4 linked regions of the Homo sapiens genome follow. The protein of the gene in region 1 interacts with the protein of each later gene in a pairwise test. Each region holds a gene or a part of one and is shown in the gene's direction. Other genes may lie near its edges.

The links.
Region 2: the proteins of ENTREP1 (region 1) and EPN1 interact in binary tests that used the Homo sapiens proteins (3 or more experiments, as listed by UniProt).
Region 3: the proteins of ENTREP1 (region 1) and HECW2 interact in binary tests that used the Homo sapiens proteins (3 or more experiments, as listed by UniProt).
Region 4: the proteins of ENTREP1 (region 1) and PCNX3 interact in binary tests that used the Homo sapiens proteins (3 or more experiments, as listed by UniProt).

The regions. Positions count from the first base shown.
Region 1 is NC_000009.12:69,320,178-69,329,001, forward strand, and holds the start of ENTREP1 (endosomal transmembrane epsin interactor 1), read left to right. Parts: upstream 1-5,037; 5' UTR 5,038-5,132; coding exon 5,133-5,546; intron 5,547-8,824. UniProt on the Homo sapiens protein: Functions as an activator of the E3 ubiquitin protein ligase ITCH in the ubiquitination of the CXCL12-activated CXCR4 receptor. Thereby, triggers CXCR4 endocytosis and desensitization, negatively regulating the CXCL12/CXCR4 signaling pathway.
Region 2 is NC_000019.10:55,705,017-55,710,593, forward strand, and holds the end of EPN1 (epsin-1), read left to right. Parts: 3' UTR 1-3,895; coding exon of another isoform or gene 3,896-4,028; 3' UTR 4,029-4,517; downstream 4,518-5,577. Other genes in the region: NLRP9 (NACHT, LRR and PYD domains-containing protein 9), read right to left, coding at 3,896-4,028. UniProt on the Homo sapiens protein: Binds to membranes enriched in phosphatidylinositol 4,5-bisphosphate (PtdIns(4,5)P2). Modifies membrane curvature and facilitates the formation of clathrin-coated invaginations. Regulates receptor-mediated endocytosis.
Region 3 is NC_000002.12:196,582,348-196,591,116, reverse strand, and holds part of HECW2 (E3 ubiquitin-protein ligase HECW2), read left to right. Parts: intron 1-8,769. UniProt on the Homo sapiens protein: E3 ubiquitin-protein ligase that mediates ubiquitination of TP73. Acts to stabilize TP73 and enhance activation of transcription by TP73. Involved in the regulation of mitotic metaphase/anaphase transition.
Region 4 is NC_000011.10:65,617,591-65,626,359, forward strand, and holds part of PCNX3 (pecanex-like protein 3), read left to right. Parts: intron 1-20; coding exon 21-116; intron 117-349; coding exon 350-1,477; intron 1,478-1,946; coding exon 1,947-2,070; intron 2,071-2,163; coding exon 2,164-2,342; intron 2,343-2,748; coding exon 2,749-2,839; intron 2,840-3,240; coding exon 3,241-3,376; intron 3,377-4,615; coding exon of another isoform or gene 4,616-4,654; coding exon 4,655-4,776; intron 4,777-5,900; coding exon 5,901-6,054; intron 6,055-6,338; coding exon 6,339-6,371; intron 6,372-6,604; coding exon 6,605-6,776; intron 6,777-6,880; coding exon 6,881-6,991; intron 6,992-7,334; coding exon 7,335-7,426; intron 7,427-7,580; coding exon 7,581-7,690; intron 7,691-7,814; coding exon 7,815-7,920; intron 7,921-8,036; coding exon of another isoform or gene 8,037-8,061; coding exon 8,062-8,154; intron 8,155-8,313; coding exon 8,314-8,464; intron 8,465-8,769.

The DNA.
Region 1 (8,824 bases):
ATTTGAACAATGAGAAAAATATGGCTACAGCTCATCTGTTTGACAAATAAGTCTGTCTTGGGGCCAGAGGCATTAGGAATTCTTAACAACCAGTCTGCACCATTATTTCAGAAAAACCTAGTGCCTGATTTGCCCAGCTCTGCTCAGGGTTTCTTTCTTTCTTTCTTTTATTCTTCCTCTCTCTCTTAATTAAAAAAAGCCTCACACAGCCCTTTCTCTGCAAAGTGAAATGTTATAATTGCTCTTACCACTCATCGATTTCCTCAGGGAAAAACCTAGGACCATGGAACCTGAGGCCTTAAAGTTTAAAATAGTGAGTTTCGGGTTTTGTCGGGGAATTTTGAGTCTATAAATTTATTCCACCCCCAAATTTACCTGCTTTTCTTAGTCCTTGTTCTCTTGCTGGTCATCTGAGAAATCATGGCGCTGAGAATAGCTGAATTTCAAAATCGCAGGCCTGGGGGTATCCAAATGATTGCATAGCCCAACCTCAGGCAGATGATACTCACAAACCCGTATCTTACAGATGAAGCAGTTGAGGCCAGGAAGCTCCTGACTGGGTCAAGGGCACAGAGTGGAGTGGGGGCTAGAACCCAGCAACTCGTTTCTCCTACGGTACCTTTCCCATTAGAATCCAGTAGTCTAACTCCTTCTGTGCATAAAGATCACCTGTGCAGTGAAGCTCCGCTGGGGGCCAGCAAAGCCCTCCCACCAACATATTTGCATGTATGTTTGCTTTCAAGTCAAATCCCCTACCTTCCTCTTCCATATAAGCATTCCCATATAAAAATTCTGGAGTCTAAATAGTACCCTCTACTAATGTTTCTTTGCATTTGTTACAATGCAGGTTCCAGGCCTTCAGTCCAGAGTATCTGATCCCGCAGGTGTGGGGAGAAGTGAATTAACTTGACATTCCCCTTCCCCGCCCTGGCGTGATCCTGTGGTCTTTGGAGCACACTTTGAGAAGCTGCTCCAGCCAGCATATTAACTGAGACTTCTAGAATCCACTATGCCTTAATTCAGAGAAGCACTTCCTTTTTTGTAAAATATAAGACCTGGAGGATCTTGCCAGGGAACAGGTTTTAAAGAGTTTCTTCAGCAGCTCTCACTCCGATGTGGAACAGCCTCCTTTAATTAGCTGACAGATGGGGGTCTTCTGAGAAGTGTGGAAGGAACTGAGGAGTTTATTTAAAGGGTCCTTGGGAGGCTGAGGTGGGCAGATCACGAGGTCAGGAGTTCGAGACCAGCCTGCCCAACATGGTGAAACCCTGTTGCTACTACAAATACAAATACAAAAATTAGCCGAGTGTGGTGGTGTGCACCTGTAATCCCAGCTATAAAGGAGGCTGAGGCAGAAGAATTGCTTGAGCCTGGGAGGCTGGGAGCCAGGCTCCTGGGAGCCTGGAGGTTGCGGTGAGCTGAGATCAAGTCACTGCACTCCAGCCTGGGCAAAAGAGAGAGACTCTGTCTCAAAAAAGAAAAAAAAAAGGTGTCCAAGAAACCTGGGCAAAGAGCCTGAACTCCTCAGTGGAGGAGGCTCCTAGTGCAAGGAGTGGAAAATGAGGGACAGGGAGGGGAAGCATTGGTAGAAGGTGTACGGAACCTTCTTGGAGTTGAGCTTTGATCTTGAGGAAAACTGGCAGCTGGGTTCCACCAAACAACACACTCCAGCTATTGTTTCCTTGAACTTTGGCCTACATTAATGAAGAATCTGGGGCAAATTTTTCACAGGTTCTTCCACACTTTATTTTTAAATTTTTTGATAACTTTATTGAGATATAATTCACATACCGTACATACAATTCACCCATTAAAGTGTACAATTCACTGGTTTTTAGTACATTCACAGAGTTGTACAATCATCAGTACAATCAATTTTAGAACATTTTCACCACCTTAAAAAGAACCCACATATCCTTTAGCCATCATCCCCTCGCAATCTCCCCATTTCCCCAGCCCTAAGCAGCCGGTAAGCTACTTTCTGTCTCTACAAATTTCTCTATTCTAGACAATTTAGATAAATGGAATCATATCATATGTGGTCATTTGTGACTGGCTTTTTTCACTTAGCATAATGTCTACAAAATTTTTAATTATTGTGGATACATAATAGTTGTACATATTATGGGGTACATATGATATTTTGAAACTTAGTATAATGTTTTTAAGGTTTCTACATGTAGCATAGATGAGCACCTCATTCCTTTTTACTGACAAATATACTCCACTGGCTGCATATTCCATGTTTTGTTAATCCGTTCATCCAGTTGATTGACACTTGGATTGCTTCCACCTTTTGGCTGTTGTGAATAATGCTGCTACTTGTGCACTGGTTTTTGTGTGAATATGTTCATTTCTTTTGGGTATATACCTAGGAGTGGAATAAGTGGGTCAAATGACAACAAACACTATACTTGACTTCCTGAGAAATTGCCAGACTGTTTTCAGAAGTCTTCAGTTTTTTTTTTTTTTTTTATTAAGACAAACGGAAATCAATGGCTCTGAATTATCCTATAAGAGCTTAGTTACATACAGGTTGTTCAGGTCTAACTAAAGACTTAATGTAAGCAGGGTTTGGGAGATGCAAAGAATCAAGCTTGGTTTACAAAAATACCAAGCCCAAATACTTGATATTTTTATTGGCATAATTTTAAAGGTTGGGGTAGTGTTACATGGATTTGTGTTTATAACCAGAAAAAGAAACTCAGTTATAAATGTGGCCAACAACAACAACAAATGACTGTACAACAACCCTTAATTAGTAGCTTTGGAAAAGTTTTAGTCACCTTATAAAATGAGTAAAGCCTTTAAGATGATAAAATCATCCACGGATTTCAGTTATTTTTGCTATCATCTGTTTCTGCATGGGGAAAAAGGCTTTAAAAATTTTAAGAATAAAGTATTTGGAAATACTTTACAGTATTTAAGTATATAATATACACAGAGATGCACACAAATCATAACTGTAACTCCATGAATTTTCACAAAATGAACCTTACTCATGTAATTAGTACCCACATCAAGAAAGAAATAGTCACCAGCACCCCTTGAAACCCTCTTTCCAGTCATAATCATGTCCCTCCTCAAGGACCAGTGGATATCCTGACTTCTAACAGCAACATTCTTAGACACAAATAATACATTTTTTGTAGTAAGTTTCAGGTGTCAAGAACTGGCCAATGAAATAGATTTGTTTAGCTGAGAGAATTTCTTAAGACTCAGTCAGACTTACTATATTGCATGGTGTAATACATTGTTAAAAATTAAATACTGTTAAGCTTGTATATAAAATAGAGTATAACCTCAGCCCCAAGAAGCTTTTCATTTAACATCAGCAGCAATTTAAGAGCATATACTGTATGGCATTTTTAAAAACTGCATGAAGCCGGGCGCGGTGGCTCACGCCTGTAATCCCAGCACTTTGGGAGGCCGAGGCGGGCGGATCACGAGGTCAAGAGATCCAGACCATCCTGGCCAACATGGTGAAACCCCGTCTCTATTAAAAAATATAAAAATTAGCTGGGTGTGGTGGCGGGCACCTGTAGTCCCAGCTACTCTGGAGGCTGAGGCAGGAGAATCGCTTGAACCCGGGAGGCGGAGGTTGCAGTGAGCCGAGATCACGCCATTGCACTCCAGCCTGGGCAACAGAGCGAGACACCATCTCAAACAAAACAAAACAAAACAAAAAACCCCTGCATGAATCAACAGACTTTAAACACTTATTTTGAAAGACATTTCCCTTTTCCTCCAGAATTTGAATTTATTCATGGGAGCAGTCTGTAAAGGAAGTCCTAGGCACCATTAAAGACAAGTGCTTTAATAATTTAAGAAGTGTGCATGTAAACTTGGGCACATTGACAGTATATTACATTGGGTTAAAGTGTAACGACCAATATAAATCCAGCTTCCACAAGCAGAGCATAAAAACTGACACATACTTTTCTTGGTTTATTGGGTAGGAGGATGTTAAATACCTTATGGTAAGATAAGCTTTCTAATACTGGAACTGACTAACTGCAAAGAACACTGCTCTGGTTCTTATCAGGAAAAAAAGTCCATTATAATCATTTTAGGCACGAAACTTTCTACGCATTAGAATTCTTCCGAGGTGAAAAGTATATTATTAAGGGAATTCATTTTGCAAAGAGGAATCTTTTTTTTTTTTTTTTTTTTTTTTTTGCTCTAAAGATTTTTCATAAATTACCAGAGTAGTTTAGGATTTTATTAGGATATTTCCTCGGAAGTTTGGGGGTTCCGTGTTCTATCAGGTGATGCCTAATAGATGCCTGATATAGCTCATAAGTCAATGAGAGGACAGAGCGTTACACTTGCCATGCACTCCGGGCTGCCCCGGGTACTTTCTTTACGGATGCTGGATGCTTCCAAGGTAACCCAGTCCTTTCATTCCCGCTCCTACCGAGATGCCGGGAAAGCACTCCCGCGCCGATGCGAGGTAGGCACGTCCTGCGCCCTGTGAGCGGTAACTGCGCTCGGCGTCGTCCTTCCCGAAGTCCTTGGCTTACACCTCTTCCCATCGAGTCGCCCCAAAGCCCCTCCTCCAGGCATCCCCCTCCTTGGGCAAAAGTTTAAGGGCGGGCCCCCTTCTCACTAAAGCGCGCCAGGGCCTCTCTCGTGGCTGGACAGAGAAGGCTCCTCGCTCTTCTCTAGCCCCAGCTCGGCGGGTGGGGACAGACGCTGAGACTCTCGGTGGCCGGCGCTGACGTGTCCTGGCCGTGAGGTGCCTCCCACCTCGAGGGACTTACTTAAATATTTGGGGCAGGGCACCCTCCCAGGACCCCAGGAAGCCGGCGCAGGTTCGGCGGGGACCCTGAGGCTGTGGCGCACTTGCCCCGGCACAGCGCGAGCACGGAGTGCGCGTGGGTGAGAGTGAGGGTGCGCCCAGGGCCAGCGGGAGGCGGACCCGCCAGGCGGCAGGTGGGTGCGGCCGGCTGGAGCCAGGGCAGCGGCAGCGGCGGCAGCAAGTGGTTGGGCCGTGCGCATTTCCTTCCCTCCCCCTCGGCCTCGGAGCCCGTCTGCAGTGCCCAGTGTGCTGCGCCTTCGGCTCGGCTCCGCTCCGCGTCCTCTGCCCGCCGCAGCCGGCCGCACCCGGCCGCACCCTTCCCCGTCCGTCCATGTCCCTGCCCGTGGTGCTCCCGGGCTCCTGCTGCCCCGTGGCTGGGCTTTCGGGTGGGCCGCAGGCCGGGGGCCCGGGCGCCGCTGCCGCCGCCGCTCAGGAGCCGCCGCTGCCCCCGCTGCGGCCGCGCTGGCCCCGGGGCGCGCTGCAGCCCCCGTCGCGGCCTCGCTGCGCGGCCACCGCTGCTGCCGGGGTGCTGGCCGCGCCGCCGGCGCTCTCCTCCCGCCGGGCAGTCGCCGCCGCTGCCGCCGCGGCCCCGGGCTCCGCGCTGCTGCCCGCCCGCCCGCTGCTGTCACTTGGGCTGCTTCAGCTGATCTTGGGCTGCTGCATGGTGGCGCTCAGCTTCGGGGCGCTGTCGCTGAGCAGCTCCCCGCAGGTGAAGAACTCGTGCCCGTTCTGGGCCGGCTCCTCGGTGAGTACCGCGCGCGCGCCCCGTTCGCCCGGTCATCCCGGTGATAGGGGGCTCTGGTCGTTCCTCTCCATTGCCCCTTTGTTGGCCTCCAGGGCTGCAGTTGGGGGAGCCTCACGCCACCTGAAGTTTTTGGAGGCTGGAGAAAAATGTTCCGCGACGGTCGAGTTCAGGGGTGAATTGGGTTGCACCTGGGTAGTGTCTGTTGCGCGCAGGCTGAAGAATTTTATTTTCCCTGTCAAGCTAATAGAATTAAAGACACCCAGCTCTTTGGGAGATTGGAAGGACAGGGTGTGGGTGGCAGGAAAGTGGGAGGAAAATGATTAAACTTCTTTTGGTTATTGAGTATTTGCTGCACTGACAACGTCTGTGCTGGGAGGGCAGGGATTTTGATCATTTTTGTTCACTGATGTATCAAGAATGCCTGGCACATAGTAGGTGTATTTGTGAGATGGGACAGTTTGACTGGGGCACATCGCTTGTTTTATTCTGCATTAAGACACACGTAAATGTGAAATGTGTAGGGTGGCTCGACCCCCAGACGAGTTCAGGAGGTAATGAGGGGGTGTGTGTGAACTGGCGCTTGTACCTGGTCATTAAAGGAAGGCCTTAACCCCACTGGGTTCCTGGAGCCATGCAGGCTGCTGTGCAGAATTCAGTTTGTGAGAACCGGGACCTGTCATTATGGATGAGCTGGCCAAAAGTCCTGGAGTGCCCAGCAGCTAGCTAGAGATGTCTGCTCTACAGGACCCACTCCTCCCTCCTCCAACCGGGAACGCTGAGCCTGGGGCCAAAGAGTGCCCAACTTCAGAGAAAAGCTGCTGCCAGCCAGTATCTATGGACACCGGGTGGCCACTCCCCCCTGCCTCCTAACAATCTCACAATTTCCAAGGCATCCAACCCCTTGACGTTTTCTGGGTGTTGAGAGACTTGGAAACACATCTTTGTGGAATGACTATGGAAGATGAGCACAGTAAATAACCTCTCTTTATATCTTTTTTTTTTAATTTTTAATTTTTATTTTTAAGGGACAGAGTTTCCCCATGTTGCCCAGGCTGGTTTCCAACTCCTGAGCTCAAGCGATCCTCCTGCCTCGGCCTCCCAAAGTGTGGGGATTAGAGGCATGAGCCACCACAGCCGACCGTAAATAACCTTTCTATGAACTCACTGTGTAAATCTGAAAGTCTAGCAATGCTGCTAGGTTTTAGTAAGATGTATAATCAGTGTATGTCCTGAATGGTAAGAACGGCTTTTGCAGTTTCACACATACTGCAATTCAAGACCAAATTGAAAAAAAAAAAAAAGGACTCGAAGAACTAATTGAACCCAAAGTAATTGTTTGAATAAGAACATTAAGAACGTTAGGTTCCTTGAGACTCGCCTGAAATTGTATACTTCATCCAGTGTCAGTTTGCTTTCCTTTTGAAATACTTTCATGTTGAATGAACTTATTGGGGTACGTGCTGGACTGTGGTGAGTGAAAGCCATGATTTGTGCCTCATGAAAAAACGCCACCCTGGTGGCTCTGCCTGTGGGCTCTGCCACTGGCCTCTATGAGTGTTCAGGAAAACTACAGAAGGATGGATATTCCAGACAAGGTAGGAATTAGACCCGTTATGCCACCTATTCTGTTTGTCTGACTAAGTCCAGCCAAATGGTGGGTGCATTTCATTTCTCTAAATACCACGGGCCAGTAATGATCTTGCATATATTTTTAGGAATTTGCTCTTTATAAAATCATAATCTATTGTCTTCTCAAACATAGCTAGTTTAGGATTCTTAAAAACTATTTTTTGTCTTCTAAAATTAAAAGCTGAAATCAGTTTACTATTGTGAATCATTTCAGAGGTAAATGCACTTAGATATCGGTCAAGCCACAGTTGAATTTGATGAAGTACCAAAAGAAAAGAAAAGAAAAAAAAAGGCCTTCCACCAGAAGGTGAAGGTTAATACTCCTGGTCTGCTGGCTGGGTATGTCCTTGTCTCCAGGTCTGGGCACACCAGAGGAGAGAAAGAAATCAGTGATTTGGAACTGACAAGTTCTCTGCTATATGTCTTTCCCCATTCTTCCCCATACTCTCCAAACACAGGTCTATATGCAACTCTATAACTGTTGGCTATTCCTACTTTTTGTGACTTGTTCCTGAGATTGACCTCAGAATTTGCAAAGTGACAACAGAAGCAGTAGATACTGTATTTATAGAACAATTAAATACAAATTTAAGAGGATGGCTTTAGGCACCATGACTCTCTTGGTGCTTTAGGGGAAAAAAGCCTTGTATCACATGTTTTGAATTTATGCATGTGACAGAGGTTGTTTTTTAAAAACCTCGTGTTATGGAAAAGTTTACATTTATGCAGTATACGATGAACCCACATATACCTTTCACCCAGCTTCAACAATGGTTTCATCTGCACCCCCTTCCTGGGCTCTGCTGCTGGCCTTGTGTCTTCTGATAAACTTCAGAAGGATGAATATTCCAAGCAGGGTGGGAATTAGATCCTTCGTGCTCCCTAGTCCATTTGTGAGATTAAATTCTCTTATTGTTTGGAAGCAAATCTCAGGTGTCACATTTCATCTGTATATATTCCAATGTGTGTATTTTTATCACAAGAAAATATAACCAGCATAGGATTGAGTGGGCAGTCCGAAGAACCATTCCCTTCAATTTTAAATCTTTTATTATAAAAATTTAAAAACTCAACAAATGTAGAAAGAAGGGTGTAATGATCCCGCATTTTACCCTTCACCCAGTAGCTATCAACACATGGCCACTTTATACCTAACGCTGCTCCCCCTTCCTAACACCCCTGGATTATTTTAAGGCAAATTCCAGGTATCACAACTTCAGCCATTAGTATTTTAGTATGTACTTATAAAAGAAATGGGCTTGATAGGACATTGTAACTAATTCAAAGACAGCTAAACTAAGGTTTCTATAAAAAAAAAAGTTGGAAGATTATGAGTTGAGAACTGCAGAATTAAAAAAGAACACAGCTTTGACATATATTCACATGCCATACAACTTACCCATTTAGCATTTAAAGTGTACTGGTCAATGGTTTTTAGTAAATTCACAGTTGTGCAACTATCACCACAATTTTAGAAAATGTTTATCAACCCTAAAGTTTTGAGTAGTTACTCCTCATTCTCCACCACCCCCACCCCTAGCCACCCACTGATTAACCCACTTTCAGTCTCTGTAGATATGTCTGTTCTGGATATTTCATATACAAGGGATCATATAATATGTGGTCTTTTATGATTGGTTTCTTTCACT
Region 2 (5,577 bases), on another chromosome or scaffold:
AGAAGAAATGAAAAGCCTGGGCAGACTCGCAGTTCTGCCACACAGTGAATGTGCTACTCAAGCCACTCAGCCTGGGCTGCAGAGGTTGGAAGCCTCACTGGCCTGAGGTTTCTGAGTAAGCTCTGACCCAATCATTGACTATTAAACTTCAGAGGTCCATGGAGACCTCTTAGGAGTCTTTGAAGGAACTTAGCATAGATACCGATAGCTGCTGACTGCAGGGAGATGGGGAGATATGTTTTGTAAACCTGTCCAGGCAACTTTTTTGCCTACGGAAACACACAAAAACGAAAACAAACCAATGAAAAAAACCTCTCAGAACGATACAGAATCCAGAGCCACTACAACACATTTCATGAAGTGGCGTGAGCCTGTAATTCCAGCAGTTTGGGAGGCCGGGGCGAATGGATGACTTGAGGTCAGGAGTTCGAGACCAGCCTGGCCAACATGACAAAATCACCATCTCTACTAAAAATACAAAAATTAGTCATGCATAGTGGCATGCACCTGTAGTCCCAGCTACTCGGGATGCTGAGATGGGAGAATCGTTTGAGCCCGGGAGGTGGAGGTTGCAGTGAGCCGAGATCGCACCATTGCACTCCAGCATGGACAACAGAGCAAGACCCTTTCTTAGAAAAAAGAAAAGTATCCCCGAACATTATCAGAGTCAAGTTAATAAAGGCCAAAGGTAGAGAAAATCTTGAAAGTATCGAGAAAATGACATGTCAATCATAAGGTCAGGTTCTTCAACAGTCATACTGACATTGTGGCTGGAATATTTGTTGTTGTGGGATATATATATATATATATATTTAGAGTGTTGTGGGATATATATATATATTTAGAGACAAGGTCTTGCTCTATCACTAAAGCTGCATTGCAGTGTGTGATCATAGCTCACCATGGGATTCTTGATTTTCAGTGAGTATAAAGTGTAAGACAAAATAAGTCTTAGTTCAGGTATGCTGGATGGGAAGCCAGAGGTCTGCATAGCAGTTACAAAGAAGGCCTTATTATCTGGAAGAAAAGGGACCATAGAATGTCCATTGGTTGGGGAACAACCCAGCTTTAGTTTTTCCAGATTCTCTGCATGTGCAGGTTTATGAGACTGGAGAACTTTGATTTCTTCTTCCTCCTCCTCCTCTCTTTTCTTCTTCCTCTTCCTCCTTTTTCTCCTCCTTTCTTCCTTTATTTTTCTTTCTTCCTTTCCTCCTCTTTCTTCTCCTTTTTCCTCCTCTTTTCTTCCTTTCTTCTCTTTTTCTTCTTCTTTTTTTTTTTTTTTTAAAAGACCGTGTTTCGCTCTGTCACCCAGGCTGGAATGCAGTGGCGTACTGTTTTAGAAAAGTGAAAGAGGGCCGGGCGTGGTGGCTCATGTCTGAAATCCTAGCACTTTGGGAGGCTGAGGCGGGTGGATCACCTGAGGTTGGGAGTTCGAGACCAGCCTGGCCGACATGGCAAAACCCTGTCTCTACTAAAAATACAAAAATTAGCCGGGCATGATGGCAGATGCCTGTAATCTCAGCTCCTCAGTAGGCTAAGGCGGGAGAATCGCTTGAACCCAGAGGCAGAGGCTGCAGTGAGCCAAGATTGCAGCATTGCAGGAAAGAGAGAAAAAGGAGGGAAGGGGAAGGAAAAGGAAAGAAAGAAAAGAGGGGAAGGGAAGGGAGAGATTTAAAAAACAATAGTAAAGAGAGATTTAAAAAACAATAGTAAAGAGAGATTAAAAAAAAAAAGTAAATGGGCCAGGTGCGATGGCTTGTGCCTGTAATCCCAGCAGTTTGAGAGGCTGAAGTGGGAGGATCACTTGAAGCCAGGAGTACCAGACCAGCCTGGGAAACATAGTGAGACCCCGTCTATACTAAAAAATATTTAAATGGGCTGAGCGCGGTGGCTCAGGCCTGTAATCCCAGCACTTTGGGAGGCCGAGGCAGGCGGATTACCTCAGGTCAGGAGTTTGAGACCAGCCTGACCAACATGGCAAAACCCCATCTCTACTAAAAATACCAAAACAAAAACTAGCAGGGCATGGTGGCGCATGCCTGAAATCCCAGCTACTCAGGTGGCTGAGACAGGAGAATCACTTGAACCCAGGAGACGGAGGCTGCAGTGAGCCGAGATTGTGCCACTGCACTCCAGCCTGGGCGAGCAACAGAGTGAGGCTGTCTCTCAAAAAAAAAAAAAAAGGAACGGTAGTGTGCACCTGTGGTCCCAGCTACACAGGAGGCTGAGGCAGGAGCATCACTTGAACCCAGGAGTTCAAGGCTGCAGTGAGCTATGATGGCACCACTGCCCTCCAGACTGAGCCAAAAAGCAGACCCTGACTCTAAAACAAAAGAAAGAACAAATAACAAATGAAAATAAATACCCAAAAACCAGTCAAATGTGAAACTGGTGTCAGGGGTATGTTCTCCATGTTGAGCCCCTTCTGTGGAATATGACAGTGTCTCTATTTCGGGTAAAGGAAAGACCAAAATAACTTTCCAAGATGAAAAGCTAAGAGTGCTGATCTCATCACAGACATAGCCAGCTCTTCAGTTCAGACCACCTGGAAACCCTCCCCATGTCTTTTCAGAACAATGTCCTAAGAACCATAGGGGAAGTGGCCATAAAAACCATCTTTCCTTTGCAGACTGGGGTGGGGACTCTGGCCAATGCCATTCTGTTCTTCCATAATATCTTTCCCATCTTGACTGAGCATCAAATGAGGCCCACACACAAGATTCTCACCCACATGGCCGTGGCAAACTCCTTGGTTCTTCTTTCCACTGGAATCCCCCACACAATGGTGTCTTTTGTCCTATGGAAACCCTTGTCCAGTCTTGAGTGTAAACTCGTGTTTACAGGTCTTAAAGTCCTGACCTGGTGATCCGCCCGCGTGGACCTCCCAAAGTGCTGGAATTACAGGCGTGAGCCACCACTCCTGGCCTATGCCAGCATTCTTTAAAGTTGTGGGAAAAGGCCAAAAGCAAATAGAAAATTGGGCAAAAAAGTTCATAATTGCTTAAACATATGGAAAACCTGGAAGTAAAATTAAGCAAGTAAGTGCGAGCACTCTACATTGAAGATTATAGAAAATTCAGCCTCCCAAATATCCAAAGAATCCAGGAGTGTGCCAAGAGATCCAAGAGTAGGTCCACAATTTCTCATTCTCAGGAGAATCTGAGATTATATTTCAATCTAATGATAACTGATTATATAATCCAATTTCTGCATCATCTTGCTTTTATGTTTTGTAATAAAAATTTTAGACCAGGCCAATAAGGCATCAGCAATTTACCGTAGGGAACTAGGGAATGTTTAATTATGACAATGAAGTGTTTAATATTGTGTTTTGAAATATAAACAGTGTAGATATATTTGAATAATACTGAATTTTTAGAAAAATCTATTGGGGTGTCATATATAAAAGGATAAGTAGAGATTTGGAAATGCTTTTTTATTGGACAAGAAAATTGATCAAATCGAAATCTGGACAAACTAGAAAGTCTGGATGCTAGCAATACAATCTATAGACACATTCTAGCATCACTTCTGTGTCAGAAGTATCCGGATTGTGGTGCCTACAAATGCATGCTCCTACACACCAAGACATCCATTAAGAAAATAAAGCCATGCTTTCCAGAGCGTTTAGCACTTGTTTAACGTACTTGTGCTTCTAAATATCACAAGGCAGGATGGGATTTCTAAAGACAAGGGGATATAGGACCGAGGCAAAGACAATCAGCATGTACACTGAATCACACTCCATAATCATATTGCTAGAACACTTAGGGAGTACCTCTGAAATCACAGCCCTGCTGCCATGATGTGCAATTACAGGATAGAGGTGCCAGGTGAAGGTCCCACTGTGGCCAAGGAAAGCCTTTGTGAGACGACTACTTCAGGGTGTTCCCCATCAGAGGAGCACACCCCTGATCTTGTATTCCTCGTCAATCCAAGGTCCATGTGAAATGGTCAGATGGGGAATTTTTTCTTCCACAGACATCAGGATCTTCTGAGTTTCTTCATCAAAGCCAGATTTGTGCAGCCTGGGAAAATAGAAATAAAGTTTTTTTTTTTGTTTTTCATTTTTACACAGTATTGCCTCTCTACATTCTGATGTCTACCTCTCCTCTCCTCTTTATTCTTTCCTAGAAATCACTGGGAGAATTGTACTGAATTTGAAAAACAAGCATGAATCTTTCCTATAGGATAGGAAGCCTCTGATTTATACCATAAAGTGAAATTTCATATACAGGATGTATCAATTAAGATTTAATTCAAAAAAGATGAATTTAAGTTAAAAAGAAAAACACAGGATAACTTCCATTCATCTGATGTTCATATGCCCTGGCACATCTATTGCTTCTTATAATGTGCTTGCTTAAAAAAAAAAAACATGAGCTTTTCTCAGAGACACTAATATAATGAATTCATGTACCCATCACCAACTTCTACAATTACCAATATTCAGCCTCTTCCATTTACAACCTGCCCATTTTCTAAGAAATAATTAAAGCACATGCTACACCCATAAATATGTCAAACGTTCTTGTCTGTTTTCGCTATTTTCAGTTCCTTTCGTGTCATTGTCCCCTGAACCCACCTCAACAAAGCTGGTTTTTGTAGTCACCAATAACATCAATTTGTTAAATACATTCTATCCTACTTACCCAGTTAGCATTGAATACAGTTAATTACACTTTCTTGTTTATTTTTTCCCTTAGCTTACTGGACACGACTTCCTCCTGGCTTCTACTCCCTCAACAGCTATCGTTCTTGCTTTATACGTTGAATCTCTGTCTCTTTATAACTTCTAAATGTTCTCAGCATCAGGAAAATATAAAAAATAAGTTCACAAATAATTGGTAAGACTGGAACATAGGCCTTCCTGAAAGAATATAACTAACATTTGCAATTCTCTTCTCCCCTCTCCCGTGTCCTTCCTTCTTGCCAGGTGTTCATAGTTATATGCCTTTTTATCTCCAATTATAAAAAGAAGTTGAGGAGGATTAGCAGGTCACAAAATTTCGTAGACATTTAGACACAGGAGAAGTAGGAGTTTATCTTAAATCTTCAGAGGTAGGGAAGATGGCTAAGTTTCCTTTCAGCTACAGCGACACTATGAGAAAGTTACCCAGAAATAACTGCTCTGAATGCTTGCTACTGTGGAGATGACATGTTTTGGGTGTGGGGATGGTGGTTGAAGAGAAGGGAGACATTATTATTATTATTTTATAATGCAGGCCTTAAGTACCTGGCCTGTCCCTATGGGGACTGGGTCTCTGTCTCCTCTCTGAATTCATTTTTCCCTTTCTCTGCTATACAGCTCCCCGGGACTCCCTTCTGGCCCTGCAGGGTACAAGGCCTGGCCCCATCTCAGGGCCTTTATGTTTTGCTGTGCCCCCTTCACTTGGGGTCCTCCCTAGACATTCGTGATATGGTTTGAATCTGTGTCCCCACCCAAATCTCATATTTAATTGTAATCCCCAATGTTGGAGGTGGGGCCTGGTGGGAGGTGACTGGATCATGGGGGTGGATCCTTCGTGAATGGTTGAGCACCATCCCTTTGGTGCTGTTCTCATGATAGAGTTCTCA
Region 3 (8,769 bases), on another chromosome or scaffold:
CATTCTGAACATTTGAGATAAACCAGCTGGAGCTTTTCTGCGCCTACCACTGTTGTGGATTATCTATGTGTTGTGTAGATTGCAACCAGATCACAAAGCTAGTTTTCCCTCTTTATGAATGTGAAGGAAAATATTCCAGTAAATTAACATTTGCCAGCCACAGGACTAAATTTAATGAAGATTATGAGCAATGTTTGACCCCTCTGAACAGGAGACAAAAAATAAAAGTAAGCACTGGTTCTGTTTCACTTGGGCAATGTGATCTTGGGAGAAAAACCTATATTTTCTTACTCTTTTAAAAGGCTTTTGCAACACTGATTTCAGCCAAAGGCAAAGAAACCAAGGTTGTTACCTGTAGTTGAGGACAGATGCTTTGGCGTTTTCTCCTAGATGAATGTGTTTTGCAGGAGAGGTGGCTTTTGGGATCTTCCCAGTTTTAATATGTGCCTACACATCAATGAAATGATCTTGCATTCAAAATGCTTGTTAAGTCTATATGGTTGGTATCTGTGTAACCTCTAACCAGGTGGCTTTCTCTGTTGTGAAGTGTTCCTTTAAGAGAAACCAGAGGCTTCTCGCCTGGGGCTTGCTGTGGGCCTGGCCTGGATCCACATTCTTGTGCATTGCTGACTACTTTCTTGGGAAAAACTGGAACCAGTTTTGCTTGGTGTGTTGGATAGGGAATGGCAGCATTGGGTGAAAACCTTTCCAGCTCTGTTATCAAAAGCCAGGCCTGGCCTGAAAGAGGGAGGACTATGTTTGAAGTTTGATTGATTTAACAGAGGCAGAGGTTGCTTCATTACACACAGGATGCCTTTTGTATCAGGATATGAATGAGAGATTAGAAAGGTGACGAGATGCCCTGCTTTGCTTGTGACAGTGCCAGTTTACTCCTGTTGGTTTATCTTAATTATCAAAAGCACCCCCTTTCACATGTAAAAGTGTCCTGGTTTGGGTGATAATTATCTGGTCACCCTAGATATTAAGGAATCCTGAATTTTTTTCATCACCCCTCTTCCGACACCAGATTTTGAGTCTTGCCTTATTTCAGTCTTTTATTTATTAAATGCAAAGCTAGAAAATCAGAAAAATTTAAACCTGAAAAATATATAAGAAAAAATGAAATAGGAGGAAGGAAGATAGGAGAATGAGATAATTGCTTGTCATCTATTTACACACATAGTGAATAAAATAGTTTTATTCTTAAGTTACTAAGCATCTGCCGTGGCTGTAAGCCCATATTATTATTGTCTTCAAGCACAATATGAATTAACACCTGTCCATATATCTAGAGCTGACACTAATTGGGACAAATCCTTTGATTTGGGAGAGCAGTTTCTACAAAACCTGTTTGCAGACCTAGTGGTTACCATGGCTCTTAGAGGTAGGAATGCAAGTTTCAAGATCTAGTGTCTGGTCCAGATCTTGGATATTTACTGAGATTCCAGAACACAAGTGTTGTTGTGAAGACTTGATTCCACATTCTCTTAGTTTCCAAGCTCTCAGGGCCATGAGGATAATAGGAGGGCTTTTGTTTTCTGTACTCCCTTGTGTCTCCAGTGTTTGGTTTGGGTCTCAGCTTTTCATACAGAGGGGTCGCAGAGAGGGAGAACTGTTGTGTCTGTTCACCACATGAAAATTCTCTTGGGGGTTTGAGATTGTGCAGGTGACCTGGCAAGGGTTTGGATTCTTTACCCAACTTAGATATATGAAGTTTGTGGCATTTGCTTCTGCAGTAGTTGCTATGCTCCTTTACCAAAGAATTGTGTGTTTGTAACACAGCTCACTTACTATGTTGGCCAGTGGATGTTATAATTAATTATGGCTGTCACCTTTCCCAAACTCACTCCACTGAAGTCCTCAAAAGCTTGGTCAGCATGTCTAAATAAGAAGAAATTTATTTATTTATTTATTTTTTGAGACAGGGTCTCACTCCGTTGCCCAGACTGGAGTGCAGTGGTGCAATCTTGGCTCACCGCATCCTCCGCCTCCTGGGTTTAAGCGATTCTCATGCCTCCGTCTCCCAAGTAGCTGGGATTACAGGCACGCACCACTACCATCAGCAAATTTTTGTGTTTTTAGTAGAGACAGGATTTCACCATGTTGGCCAGGCTGGTCTTGAACTCCTGACAAATGATCCACCCTCCTCGGCCTCCCAAAGTGTTGGGATTACAGGTGTGAGCCACCGTGACCGGCCTATGTATCTTTTTTATAAGTAGGATGACTATGTAATTTAAAAAAATCCAGACAAGGACACTTTTGAGAGTAAAATATGGTACTAACTGGAAGGGGCATTAGATCAACAAGTATAAACTGAGACTGTGCCAGGAAAACTAGGATTTATGGCTGTTCTAACTATGACTCAAGTGATAAGCTTGTATATGTATTATATCCATATGATGAGAAATGTCCTTAGCTTCTTCTAGTCTTGTTCAACGTATATGTGTGTGTGTGTGTATGCAATGTATGTATAGATAAACATTGATAATGTATCTATGGATATGTGAATTGTAGGTTTGAAATAAACCACTTAAGAAGTCCTGGTAATTGGAAATTTATGCCCTTCCTTATCTCTTTCATTGGTTGACTTTTTAACTAAACTCTTTGGATCTAGCCTCTCCAAACTTTAAATCATCTCCTGACCTTGTCTATTTTAATACCATTCTATTGATATAATTCTTTTGCTTAAAAACCTCTGATGGCTTATCATTTTCTTTTTAATTCTCAAAGTAAGATCCATAGGCAGTTTGGTGGTTAGAAGGGAAAAGCAATGAAAAAATTTAATTCATTCATCCATTCATTTATTTGTTCATTCAAGTAATATGTATTGAGCTCCATCTGCGGGTTAGTATCTGATCTAGGTGCTGGGAATATATCAATGAATAAAACAAAGATCTCTGACCTTGTAGAGTTTTCATTCTGTTGGGGGCAGGCAGGTGGGAGGTGGGAGACAGATAATAAACCAAATAACTAAATTATATATGATGCTAGAAGGAGATGAGTGCTTTGGAAGAAAGAGAAAGTAGGACAGGGTAAGTGTGGTTGAGTAGGCTTCATGGAGAAAGAGACCTTAAGCAAAGAGTTAACGGAAGGTAAGAGAAGTTGCTTAATACAAATACCTGAGGGATAGAGTTGCAGGATGGCCAGTGCAAAGGCCCTGAGAAAAGAATGTGTTTGGATATGTTCAAAGATTTGCAAGATCAGCATGATGGGGTGGAATGACAAGGGGGAAGTCAGAAATGAGACCAGAAGGGTGGTGTGGGTGTTGCAAAGCCTGTAGGGCCTTGAGATAGGCCATTTAATTATGATTTCAGCAGACATCCCCTTATGTTCTTAAAACTTATTATAATATTTAAGATTGTATTTGTGCTGCAAAGACTGCACTGGTGAGTGCGTATAGCTTACATTTTGTTAATGGTCCACTTCATGTTTGTTAATATAATTTTTATATCATTTACTTATTTTTTATTTGTTAAAAGAATATTTTTTGTTTTTGCTGTTCTTAAATTGTATTCCCATTTCACAAAACTAGATAAGTGGTTCAAAAGTAGTTCATTGAAGTGTAAAAATAGTGATGAAAATAGTACTGTAAATGCTACATTTCAGAATACCATAAACATACTTAGAGAACTGAATCCCACTGCATATAAAATGGGAATATGTATGTATAGAGACAAGGGAATCTCTGAGAGTGACAATTTCAGAACAGTAGCTGAAATTGAAAAGTGCAAATGGAAATATGACAATGACTATCTCAAAACTATTTTTTATTGGACTTGCTATCCCCATTAGGACCAAATGAATCCGTAATCGTTGCCTGTTATGAAACTTTGTCCAATAGTGGCATGAAGCCATGGATGTTTTTGTGTCATTTTCGAACAAAGCACAGTGGCTTCTCTGTTATACTATTGAAGTTTTCTAGGACAGGCACACAATAATGCTTTCCTTTATAAAATTAATGTATTATATGGCTAAAGGTAGGTAAGAGATTATAATTCTATTAGCATCATTAAAGGATCCTTGTAGCAAAATAAGTATGAGTCATATTATTGAAGAGACACTTGGAAAATCAGCTGGAAAGTTAAAGACAAACATTATCCTTAGAGAGAAACCAGAAGTTATTGACAAAACTCCTTTGTCAAATAACATGGTTGGCTGTGGCATAATATCAGTGGAGTGGAGTGTGGAAGAGCGATTACTATCAAGTGCACGCTAGCAGATATTTCACTTTATGGTTGGATGAAACCACCGATGTCATGCAGAGAATGAATCAGCTTTTGGCATTTGTTCAGAAATGAGTGCTCGGTGATGCTTTTGTTCATTTGTCACTGAAAACTTGTGCTATAGGAAGAGTTTTTTTTTGTTTTTTTTTTTTTGGTTAACCATTATTCATGAGAGTGGAAAAGTTGCTCGGGACAGAACTGACAGGGTACTGGGCTCAGGTACAGATAAGGTGATGGCTTCATGAAGAAAAGGAGTTGTACTTAGAAAGAAGCCAATCCACATGCTACCCACTTCATGGAGAAGACGTAATACCCTCTGATCTTGAGGAAATACAAAAAGAAACAGTGGAAACTATGGATTCAACCAAACTGTGGCCCCTGTGTCTGTGAGTTTGCTGTGCAAAGTGATGGGCAGTGAGTGTAAGACTGCTTCCCCAAGCTGACATATGCTAGCTGCATAGTGGAAAGGTGCTCGTGTAATATTTTATCTGTGGAGTAAGATATCTTTGGAGCAAGAAAAACATTTCCTTATGACAGTGATTAGAAATGATTTGTGTTATATCAAGTGGTATACCTAAGTCATATGCTTAGCCCGTGGTGAACTGTGGCAAGGACAGAGAGGGAAGGGAGAATTATTAACAAATAAAACAATATGCCACAATCTTAGACTATGAAATTTTTTATTAGGGAGTTGGAAGTTCACATTGACTGTAAATTAAGGAAGTGATATTTTCAGTAATAGACAGCCATTTATATCATAAGCATAGTATCTCTCAGTGACCTGCTAGAAGAATAAGAGCTCAAAGTAATAGAACTTAGACCCAGTAAGTTTTGATGGGGAGTAGACACGAGTGTATATTTGGTATTTGAGAGCATGTAGAGAACCATGGCAGGAGGGACCCAGACTTTTAGGATTTTGCATGAAGATATTGGGTGGCAGGGAGTACAGGCTGAAGGAGGTAGAGAAAACTGTCAGATTTCTCTGACAGTTGGATATGATCTTTCTTAAGTTTTTGCCTTAGGCTTCACTTCATTTTATCCAAATGGACTTCATACTCTAAGGTTTTCAGGACATAATCTTTATTGCCATTGGCATAATCTAGAAAAAATGAATGATTTCTTCTGGTCTTATAGTGGTATTGGATACCCTCCGTATAGGCCCCCACCCCTTCCTCCCTCCATTTTTTCCTCTCTTCTCTTTCTCCTTCTCCTCCTTTGTTCTCTCCTTCTTTAAGCCATTGAGTTGGCATCTCTAAGCTACACGAGCTAGAAGAGCTCATCTTCTGTATCACTGTTATCTAGGCAGATATATGTGCTATTCAGGGAACAAGGGAAAGGAGCCCCTAGGGAAGGGAAGTTCTGTACCTTGCTCAACTAACTCATCCTAATGTCCGATATCCAGCTATAGCATGCATTTAAATGTAAACCCCATTCTTTAATAAAGACTCATTTCCTTTTTCCCCTCTTTGGACTTTTAATAAAGATGGAATCATTGTCTTTTGTTTAATAAGTCATCCATTGTGATGGCCCTTATTTAATACTAGGACAAAAGTCATTCATGCATTATTCATTGAACCTTATATGCCAGGCTCTATGCTAAGTAATGGGTATAAAAGAGGTTAATAATCAGACATGGCTCTGTCCAGATAAGACAGAATCTAATGGAAAACAGGCCACACATATATGAATAAATAAATAAGTATATAATTGCAAAACAAGGCAAAAATATTAATGTTTGTTAAATCTGGGCGTTGGTATGTATGGTATACCTCAGTAATATACTTAGGCCACAGTGAATCATGGCAAAGACAAACAAGGAAGGGAAAATTATTAGCAAGTAAAACCATATGCCACAATCTTAGACTATGAATTTTTTTTATTAGAGAGTTAGATGTCCACATTGACCATAAATTAAGGAAGTAATATTTGGTATATGGGCTACTGTTATATTAACTTCTTAACAATATGAACTTCTAAATGTATATTTTAAATATTTCATAAGCAACAAATGAAAAAACCTAGTTGGAAGTACATTAAGTGCTTTGTCGAGGTGGGCTTTGGCAGAGAATGTTGTGTAACTGAGACTTCCTTTAGATGGAGTGCTCAGGGAAAACCTGAAGTGTAATTCATCACTTGCCTATATAAGAAGGATGAGGATAATTTGGAAAGGGTTCAGGGAAGAGTAACAAAGATGATTGATGACAGAGTTGAAAATAGCCCTATGAGAACAGTCTTAGAGAACTGGGGATGCTAAGCAGCAATGGAATGCTTAACCTAATGCAGTGATTTAGGTTTTTTTTTTTTTAATTTATAGGGAGTTTTACACATCCACATTCTCTTCACTTGTCTGCCATGGTCAACAGCAGGCAAGACAAGTGATTCAATTTAGAATTATGGGTTGGAGAAGAATCAGAATTTTGTTCTGCACTTGAGGAAAAATTGGAAAGGATCTGAGAGGTAAACTAGTTTAGCCTTTCTGTAAAGAAATATCTCTTCAGTGTTTTTAACAGGTGGTCATCAGGTTTTTAGGAGATAGTTTCCATGCTTCCTCCACTAAAAATAGGGTGATGGTGAGTGGGACACTCTAGTTTACTTTAATTAGACAGGTCTTCTTCCTGTCCCATAAATACCCTAGACTCATCTCCACCTCAGTACTTTTACCACAGGAAGCAACTCCCACCTGGAATGCCCACCACTTCTACTTACTCTTTCAGGCCCCAGGTCTCCATTGCCCTTCTGTATGCAATTTAAAAACAGTGGTTTTTGTCATTTTTCCCACCTCATCCTTCTGAAGAATATGCCATTCCTGGAATTCAGTGTAGTTTCCCTTGTCAGTGATTGACAGTAAGAGTAAGGGTGGAGTAAGTATCTTATAGGAGGAGTTGGGAGACAGTGTGTTTAGCCTTCCACCCAGATGCTGATATGCTACCCTCTTGGGAATCACTCGTTTGTAGCAATTAAAATCTTAATCATCTGCTGTTTTAGGTGGTACACTAGTTATTGTTTTCCATTAGTCTTCTTGCCACCTAGATTTTAAGCACTCTAAATATATGGAAACTTGGCAGATGCCCCTGTGTAATGCCCAGTATTGATCACATAGTGAATATTCAATAACCAATGCCTAATGGCTAAAGGAACCATCTATTTCTTCTTCATGGACCATTATGAAGGGTTGTTATTTATATAGATCAGATATTAATTGACACAGGATACTAAAAGATTAACATTTTGGACTTTTAAAATGTCAGAAAGTCAAGTCTTGGAGGCCTAGTTCATTCAGATAACTCTCATCTCAGAACTTTCTTCCTTCGTAAGTCTTCTAACTCCTTGCTATTCAAAGTGTGGTCCACAGTCCAGGCAGCATCAGGATCACCAGGGAGCTTGTTGGAAATGCAGAATCTCAGGCACCACACCAGACTTATTGAATTTGAATCTGCATTTTTAAAAGATCCTCACATATGTTGGATGCACAGTAAAGTTTGAGAAACATCATTTTAAATCATCAGAACTCAGAAATTTAGGAGTATTTATCTTCAAAGAGAAGTAAGTGTGGAAATGAAGATTTCATCAGTCTGTGGATGAGATCCTCAGTGCCTTCTGCCATGTGATCTGGAATTTTGCTACTTCATATAGGAGCTTGCCAGGCCAGAAGATACCTCTGCAGGAGTTCCCTGGGGTAGTTCAGGTATGTAGGTGATATTTAGGATTGGTGATTACAGGAAGAAGAAGCAGTTGTTGGCATGAGAAACTAGGAGAGGTTGTCATAAGTAGAGGAGCATGGCAATACGACCCTAAACCAAGAGATCACTTTATGATTGGACACAACTTCTAACTCCCTGAACATGGACTTGTCTCAAACTCCAATACCTCCAGAGCCAACAGGTCACAAATGAAACCAGCTGGATGTGTTGTGCATGGTAGCCTTGTGGAGTGGTGAGGATCATGGAGAGACACACTTCATCAAAAGGAAAGGCAGTGTCCCCACTTGGCTCACCTTATTGTTGCCACATGGGAATTTGGACCCACCATGGCCAAATCTTCAGATTTTTCAAGTGAAGCTAAACTTAATTACATGTAAGTTTGTATGTAAAACATCTCTTGGGTGTAATTTGTTGGTTAAGTATACTGTTTTCAGAACAGCTCATGCCAAACGAAATTCACGTGCTGTTGTGGTGTCTGTGTCTGGTTCGCAGTACCTGTTCTGGATCAACTGAATGTATGAGGTGGTTTTGATACCTGGCTTCTTCAGTGCAGGGCACCAGACACAGGTGTTATGGATCTCTACCAAGAAAATGAAATAAAAAGACGTAAAAGAAGGGAGCTGTATATGCTTTGATGGCCTGATTTAAAATCTGTGATAATCTGAAGAACCTCAGTGGTGTTTGAAGAAAGGGTTAGGTGCCTAAAGGAATAAAATCCAGGTTTTGTAAAAACAGTAAGCAGGTGTTGAGGCAAGGGCAAGGAGATACAGAAACAGAAACTACTTGGCATCCTCAAGCTAGGATCACACACTGCAACAAGGCAGTCAGGGCAAGGATGCTGGACC
Region 4 (8,769 bases), on another chromosome or scaffold:
CTCTGGGGCCATGGTTGCAGACATCAAGGAGCTGGTGCGGGAGCAGGGCAGCAACAATGTGATCGTGACTTCTGCCGACCGAGAGATGCTGAAGCTCAGCTCGCAGGAGAAACTGAGTGCGTGGGCCTTATGGGGCCGAGGCTTGTGGGCTAGACCAGCTGTTTCGTTGTTGAATCCCCTCAACTTTGGCTCCATCCTGGGTCTCCTCTGTATTCCTCTGTGGGACCTCCCCAGTGTGCTGCTGTGGCTGGGCTCTCAGGGAAAGTACAGGGCATAAGACCTCCCTTAACCACTAGTTTGTTTTGCAGAAAACCCTTTTTTCATTTTCTGTTTCCCTTTATTTTGGCAGTTGGAGACCTTCCCCAGACGCCTCCAGGGGCTGTCCCAGACCCCTCTCTTGCCAGTACAGACTCTTCAGAGCCTTCTCCCCTGGCTGGAGATGGAGCGCCCTGGAGTGGGAGCAGCATGGCTGACACTCCCATGAGCCCCCTGCTGAAGGGGAGCCTCAGCCAGGAGCTGAGCAAGAGCTTCCTGACCCTGACCCAGCCTGACCGGGCCCTGGTGAGGACCAGCAGTCGACGGGAACAACGCAGGGGGGCAGGTGGCTATCAGCCCCTTGACCGGCGGGGCTCAGGGGAGCCCACGCCCCAGAAAGCCGGCTCCTCAGACTCCTGCTTCAGCGGCACTGACAGGGAGACATTGAGCAGCTTCAAGAGTGAGAAGACCAACTCCACCCATCTGGACAGCCCCCCAGGGGGGCCAGCCCCTGAGGGCAGCGACACAGACCCACCCTCTGAGGCTGAGCTGCCTGCCTCACCAGACGCCGGGGTCCCCTCAGATGACACGCTGCGTTCCTTTGACACGGTCATTGGAGCAGGGACGCCACCGGGCCTGGCTGAGCCGCTCCTGGTCGTGCGGCCCAAGGACTTGGCCCTGCTACGGCCTAGCAAACGGCAGCCACCCCTGCGAAGACACTCTCCACCTGGCCGTGCCCCTCGACGGCCCCTGCTTGAAGGTGGGGGCTTCTTTGAGGATGAAGACACTAGTGAGGGCAGTGAACTGAGCCCGGCCTCCAGTCTCCGATCGCAGCGCCGCTACAGTACTGACAGCTCCTCTTCTACTTCCTGCTACTCCCCTGAGAGCTCCCGGGGTGCAGCAGGGGGACCCCGGAAGCGGAGGGCCCCCCATGGGGCTGAGGAGGGAACTGCTGTGCCCCCCAAGCGGCCATATGGGACCCAGCGGACGCCTAGTACCGCCAGCGCTAAAACACATGCCCGTGTGCTGAGCATGGATGGGGCTGGGGGTGATGTTCTGAGGCCCCCACTGGCTGGCTGCAAGGCAGAGCTGGAGGCCCAGGTTGGGGTGGAGCAGGCTGCTAGTGAGCCTGTTGTGCTGCCTGCTGAGGCGCGAAGGGGACCCGCTGCCAACCAGCCCGGCTGGCGGGGGGAGCTGCAGGAGGAAGGTGCTGTGGGGGGAGGTGAGTGCTTGCTCTAGAGGCAGGGGCTGGGGGACGTGAGCTACGGGCTTGGGGTTGGGCAAAGGGCAGGTAAGAATGGACCTGGTCAGTGTCAGCTCAGCCTCGGTTGTAGGCAGCAGATGGACGTGGGCCTGGTGGTGATTGACATTGTCTGCCAAACCTCTTAGACATGGGGCTCAGCCACCTGGCTCCACATCCTTGATTAGCACCTGAGTCTCTGTCCCCTGAGGACTCTCATCATCCACACTCATCCTCCCACCACCAGTGGGGTGGGGCAGGGCCGATCAGTGTCATCCTTGTTTGCAAGTAAGGAAACTGAGCATGGGGCTGTGTGACCTGGCTGGGCCTCAGAGCCGGGGCGTGGTTGTACTAGGCCTTTAGCTCCCTGGCGGAACACCGTCCCCAACCTTACTCCCCCAGCCTTGTCTGAGCATCTGTCACTTACACTTGGGGGCCTCTCTCTGGGCAGCGGCCGAGGAGACTGGCAGGCGGGACCGCTCAAGCAGTGTGAGGCGGACCCAGGCCATTCGGAGACGCCACAATGCAGGCAGCAACCCCACCCCTCCAGCCTCTGTCATGGGCTCGCCGCCCAGGTGAGCACCTTGCCAGCTGTGCCGAGGGGCACCGGGGGCCGGGGAGGGCCCGCAAGCTCTAGCTGGCGCTGACCTGGGGCTGACCCTCTCCAGCAGCCTGCAGGAAGCTCAGCGGGGCCGGGCTGCCTCCCACTCCCGGGCGCTGACGCTGCCCTCTGCGCTGCATTTCGCCTCTTCACTGTTGCTCACCCGGGCCGGTGCCAATGTGCATGAGGCCTGCACCTTTGATGACACTTCTGAGGGTGCTGTGCACTATTTCTACGATGAGAGCGGTGAGCCTTTCCCAAGCCCGGTGGCCCAGTGCCTCCCCGCCTTCCCCCAACAGCCTGAGTCCTCCTAGCAGTGGTGCTCGCTCGGCCCTGTGGCAGGTACACTGCTAATGCTGCCAGACATCATCCTTGCAGCCTCTTTGAGGCACGGTGTCTCTGTCATCTTTTGCTCTGCTGATGAGGAAACAGAGGCTCAGCTTACAGTACAGGGGAGATCTAAAGCTAGGACAGGTGACTGCCGCGCCCAGGCTCTTGACCTGTAGGCCCTTTCCTCTCCAGAGGCTGGGCTGCCCTCTCAGAGGACACAGCACAAGGTTCTGCCTCATTTGATGGGTCTGGTGCCCACGTGAGCCGGGCCTTGGTGCTTCTGTCTCTGCCACGCTGCCTCATCTCCCATACCCTGCCCCAGGTGTGCGGCGTTCCTACACCTTTGGCCTGGCTGGAGGCGGCTACGAGAACCCTGTAGGGCAGCAAGGGGAGCAGACAGCTAATGGAGCCTGGTGAGTTCCCAAGCCTGGCCTCCCAAGCCATTGTCTTGGTGGCCTGCATCTCTGGGAAGTTCCCTGAGCCTGGAGTTTGCTCTCTTCCTGCTGGGCTTGGGCAGGGGCAGCTCAGATCTGCAGGGAGAGGATGGGGAGCAGCAAAGGACAGACCTCCTGGGGTCCCTGGCTCCATGACACTCCGGGCAGGAAGTTTCTAGGAAGCCCAGGGCACAGCCTCGACACTCGTGCCAGGGTCTGGGAGGGAGGCACTTCTGCCACCTGACCCCAGCACTTGTCCCTTGAGCCCTGGTTGGTCTCGGCACAGACAGCCCTACCTGCCTGGCCTTGGCCTCGGCCTCGACCCCACCCAGCCCCAGGGCTCGCCCGTGGGGGGATCCTGATGGCTGCTGTTCTCACAGGGACCGACACTCGCATTCCTCCAGCTTCCACTCGGCTGATGTCCCTGAGGCTACAGGCGGCCTGAACCTGCTGCAGCCGAGGCCTGTGGTTCTGCAGGGCATGCAGGTGCGCCGGGTGCCCCTGGAGATCCCGGAGGTGAGGAGCAGCCGGGGAAGGGCCGTGCCAGTGGGGCGTGACGGGGCGGGCAGATCACTGAGTCCGGCCTGCATAGAGAGCTTGCCCAGGTGCCCCAGGAGGGACGGGCAGTGCTGAGTGAGCGCTCCAGGGGCCCTACTGTGTCTGTCCTGATCTTTGATGTTGGCAGAGACTCTGGGTCTGAATGGCTGGAGAAGTCATTTATTTGCTTACTACGAATTCCTTTGGAGTACATTCCTAACTCTGGAGGGTCCCACAGTGAACAGGGGCCATGGGTGTTAATGATGATACTTGCGGAAGTGGCAGTGTTCTGTTAGCAAGCAGGGACCCTGTGATGACTGTGCTGCCCTGCATACACTGTGCACGTGTGGCTGCTGGGGTGCTCTCTGTTAACACTTCCTGTCTCAGTATACTCATTACCAGCGCTCTGTCACTCTTAAGAATATCACAGTTTGGACAGTAAATTTGTATACTTAATCTATTAACACCAGAAGCGCTAAAAATGCGTGAAACGCCATCTTAGAGCTTAAAGAATGATCATAAAAGGGTACCCGGCACCTGACCCTCAAGGCCACAGATAGGTTGGGCAGCCCCCAGAAGCTCCCACCTGCCCGCTTCTGGTTCATTTCTTCCTTGTAACCATGTGGGGTGGAAGCGTGGCCGGCGGCCGCCTCCAGAGGGAAGGGTTGCGTGCCTCTGGCTCGCCATTTTATCCTTGGATCCCAGGGCAGGGCCGGGCCCATAGCTGGGGCCCCACAAGTGCTTGTTGAGTGAAGGATACAACAAATGAGAGGTCAAGTCATGTGCCCAGGGCCTCAGGGCTGGCATTGGCACCTAGGCATGTCCTCAAGGCTGAGCCCTGCATGCACGCTCGGATGGGGTAGTCAGAGTGACAGTGACAGGCCCTGTCTGGGAGGAGGGTAGCATTTGTGCCAGGTCCCAAAGGACAAGTGGACTTCCTTGAGCTTCAGAAGAGGTGGGAGAGTTTGCCTGACTGGGGAAGACAGGCGTGGGAGCGGGTGACTCTAGGCAGCCCCTGCAGCCACTGGGCGACGTCCTGGGAACCTGGAGAGAGGAGGAGCCCTTTCAGATGAAGGGTTCTGGTGGGGTCCAGGGCCGCTAGACAGGGGCCTTTATGTGCTGATGGAAATGGTCAACCAGACCGGTGTGCTGAAGGGGGGTAACAGTAGACCATGTGGGGGGTGGCGGGGCTGACGGCCGCGGCTGTGGGGACTGCAGTTTGACCTGCTGGACCAGGACTCCCTGCACGAATCCCAGGAGCAGACACTGATGGAAGAAGCGCCACCCCGGGCCCAGCATAGTTACAAGTACTGGCTTCTCCCTGGCCGCTGGACCTCTGTGCGCTATGAGCGGCTTGCCCTGCTGGCTCTGCTGGACCGGTGAGTGTCCCGCAGCCTTGGCCCCCAATTCTTGGAAAGCCCCTGGACCTTGGCTCCCCAGACTCTGTACCTGTGGAGGCAGTCATGGCAGCAGAGAGCCTGACTCGGGGGAAGCTGAGGGCCTGTCGTTGGCTGGAGTCTGCAGTGGTGGTTTCTATGGTTCATTTGTGGTGTAAAGGGGTGGCCAAGTGGGTGGTGCTGTATTAAATCTGTTTATTCCAAAGTCCTGCTGAAAAAAACTTTTTTTGAGACGGAGTCTCTCTCTGTCGTCCAGGCTGGAGTGCAGTGGCATGATCTCGGCTCACTGCAAGCTCCGCCTCCCAGGTTCACGCCATTCTCCTGCCTCAGCCTCCTGAGTAGCTGGGACTACAGGTGCCCGCCACCACACCTGGCTAATTTTTGTATTTTTTTTTTTTTAGTAGAGATGGGGTTTCACAGTGTTAGCCAAGATGGTCTTGATCTCCTGACCTTGTGATCTGCCCGCCTCGGCCTCCCAAAGTGCTGGGATTACAGGCGTGAGCTACCGCGCCCGGCCATCCTATTCACTTTTTTTTTATTAGCTTCTGTTGATTTGAAAATCGAGTGCTGTAACCTAGAAAAGCTCACAGACCAGTTATCTCACTTTTCCCATTTCTCAGAGGGGACACAGAGTCCCAGAAAATCCAATAGAGAAGTCAGATGACTTCTACCCAGTGTAGAGAACTTGGGCCTAGAGCCCATGTGGCTTCCCGTCCATCTGGGTTTCTCTAGGCACAGGGACTGGGTGCTGGTCCTGTGTGCATAGCGTGGCACGCCCAAGGCAGCATGCACGATGTAGCCACGTGCAGTTAACTCAGTCTCAGCTGGGGATGGATGAATCCCGGGAGTAATGGCACCCTGAGCTCTCAGCCCTCAATGTCCAGAGCAGGCAAAGATTGGGAAGGAGAGAGCAATACAATGGTCGCTGGAGCAGGTGCTGCCGGGCCGCGTCGTCGCAAAGTTATAGGTGTTCACATCTTCAGAGGACAAGGGTCTGGCATGGGCACAGTCCCAGAGCTGGGCCTTTAGGGCAAGATCCATCTTCCCCACTGCCCCACTGGAAGGTGAGGCAAGACGGGCACGCCCTGACTAGGCTGTCCCTGCAGGACGCGGGGAGTGCTGGAGAACATCTTCGGCGTGGGCCTGAGCAGCCTTGTGGCCTTCCTGGGCTACCTGCTGCTGCTCAAGGGCTTCTTCACTGACATCTGGGTCTTCCAGTTCTGCCTGGTCATCGCCTCCTGCCAGTACTCCTTGCTGAAGGTCAGGCCGGGCTCTCTGTGTTTCCTTCCCCACCCGACTTTTCCCAAGATTGCCCTTCCCACAACTCCAGTTTTAAGGAGTATAAGCTGAAAGGTAGATAATTTGTCTAAGGTTCCCTAGAGCTGGCCAGCTCTTTTACAAGCAAGAAAACTGAGGCTCAGGACAGTTCGGGGGCCTGACCTGGTCACTCATAACTGCCTAGTGGTGGAGCTGAACAGGTCTGGGGCCTCTGACCATCCCGTGGGCATCGGCTCTAGTTGCCAACGTAGCCCTGTCTCTTCCAGAGCGTGCAGCCTGATGCGGCGTCCCCCATGCACGTGAGTACCCATGGAGCAGCGCCTCTGGCCAGGAGGCCCCGGGAGGGGCTGAGACCAGGTGGGGAGGAGGGTAGGGTATGGAGGGCTGGGGCTCCCTCACCACCCCCATCACCCCCACCTGGCCAGGCTCTCCAGCTTGGACCCAGGGCCAGGCCTGGGGCCCTTGAGTGTGTGCATGTGTCAGAGGTGTGGCCAGTCGGGGAGACCCAGCTCCTCATGGGCTGACCCCTCAGGGCCACAACTGGGTGATCGCGTACAGCCGTCCTGTCTACTTCTGCATCTGCTGTCTGCTCATCTGGCTGCTGGACGCCCTGGGCTCAGCTCAGCCCTTCCCACCTGTCTCCCTCTACGGCCTCACGCTCTTCTCTGCCTCCTTCTTCTTCTGTGCCCGAGACGTGGCCACTGGTGAGGCTGGGGCAGGGATGAGGTGGCCCAGGAGAGTGAGTCCCCGAGGGTGGGCCGCGGAAAGCCAGCAGGCTGACCAGGCCTTCGTGTCCCCTCCCTGCCAGTGTTCACCCTGTGCTTCCCCTTCGTCTTCCTCCTGGGCCTCCTGCCCCAGGTCAACACCTGCCTCATGTACCTGCTGGAGCAAATAGATATGCACGGCTTCGGGGGCACAGGTATGATGCCCACAGGTGGCTCAGGGATGGGGCCCGTGTGGAGGCCCAGGAGGGCCCTCGGATTGGGTCCTTGGCTCCACCCTTGCGGAACCTTCTCCTGCGTCTGTACTGCAGACTCAAGGTTTCTGCCTTCTCCCCTCTCCTTCCCTCCCCAGGCAAGTGGTTTATATCTGAGAATCTTGGAAGCTCTAAAGGCCGCTTGGGGCTTGGGGCAGCAGAGAACAATGGGCTGGGGGTGCCTTTCCAGGGAGGCCAGCCTCTGGGAGTTGAGGGGAAGCGCGGCTAGGGTTGAGGTGGGGTACCTGCAAGTGAGAGCTGGGCTGTACTTCTCCCTTCCACACAGCTGCCACCAGCCCGCTCACGGCAGTCTTCAGCCTCTCCCGCAGCCTGCTGGCTGCTGCCCTGCTCTACGGTTTCTGCCTTGGGGCCATCAAGGTAGGGGTGGCTTGCGAGGTGGGGGCATGCTGCAGTGCGTAAGGGTGGTTGGGGCGGGGCTGTGAACTGGGCTCAGCAGTGGCTTCTCACACGGGGGCAGCCCGGGCCCCATGCTTACCTCACCTCCCCTGACCAGCATGGATTCTCTCCGCAGACTCCGTGGCCAGAGCAGCACGTCCCTGTCCTCTTCTCAGTCTTCTGTGGCCTCCTGGTGGCACTGTCCTACCACCTGAGCCGGCAGAGCAGCGACCCCACCGTGCTCTGGTGGGTGTGCTCCGGGTCGTGTGTTTGTGTCTGCCCAGTAGGGGTTTGTGGTCTGTGCATGTGCCCGTGACTGGGGCCGGGGGGAAGGAGGGGCGGCCTCCTCCTGACTCTTCCTCACCCCCAGGTCTCTGATCCGGAGCAAGCTGTTCCCTGAGCTGGAGGAGCGCAGCTTGGAGACAGCCCGGGCCGAGCCCCCGGACCCCTTGCCGGACAAGATGCGCCAGTCGGTGGTGAGGGGGCGGGGGGTGGGGGTCTGTGGGGAGGTGGTGACAGGTCCTGGGGTTCCTGGGAGGGGCATGTCCAGCTTGGGCTGCTGGGCAGCTGAGTGTCTCTCCTGGCCGGGCAGCTGAATGTCTCTCCTGGCCCTGCAGCGTGAGGTCTTGCACTCCGACCTGGTGATGTGTGTGGTGATCGCCGTGCTCACCTTCGCCATCAGCGCCAGCACCGTCTTTATTGCCCTGAAGGTTTGTGTGGCATGGGCCGCTGCTGCCTCTCGCTGTCTTGGCGGGAGCCTGCTCAATCTGAGTGCCGTGGGCAGCCCCTCCCCGGCCTGTGCCAGGTGGCCCTCTGTGGTCCCTTGGCCTGCTCCCATCAGCTGAGTCTCTGGCCTCTCCCTCCTGCAGTCGGTGCTGGGTTTCGTGTTGTACGCACTGGCTGGGGCCGTGGGCTTCTTCACACATTACCTGCTGCCACAACTCCGCAAACAGCTGCCCTGGTTCTGCCTGTCACAGCCCGTGCTGAAGCCGCTGGAGTACAGCCAGTATGAAGTGCGCGGTGAGTGCCCACCCCTGATGGCCAGGCCTGGGCAGTGGCTCGGGCTGCAGCCTGGCTGGTGGGAGCTGTGGTCCTCTCGGCTCAGGAGTGCCAGCAGGGGGCACTCGCTGCCCACACTACCCTTTCTGCTCCCTCCCTGCCCTCTGTGTCCGTGTTGCCCGGCTGCGCTCTCCACCGACTCTTCTCCTCGTGCCCTGCTGTGCCCTTCCCTTGCCTGTGTTGCCCTGGTCCTGCCCTCCTTCCTGTCTGTGAGAAGACGGAAGAATTAGAACCCCAGGGCCCTGAAGGGATCTCTTGTCCAGAAT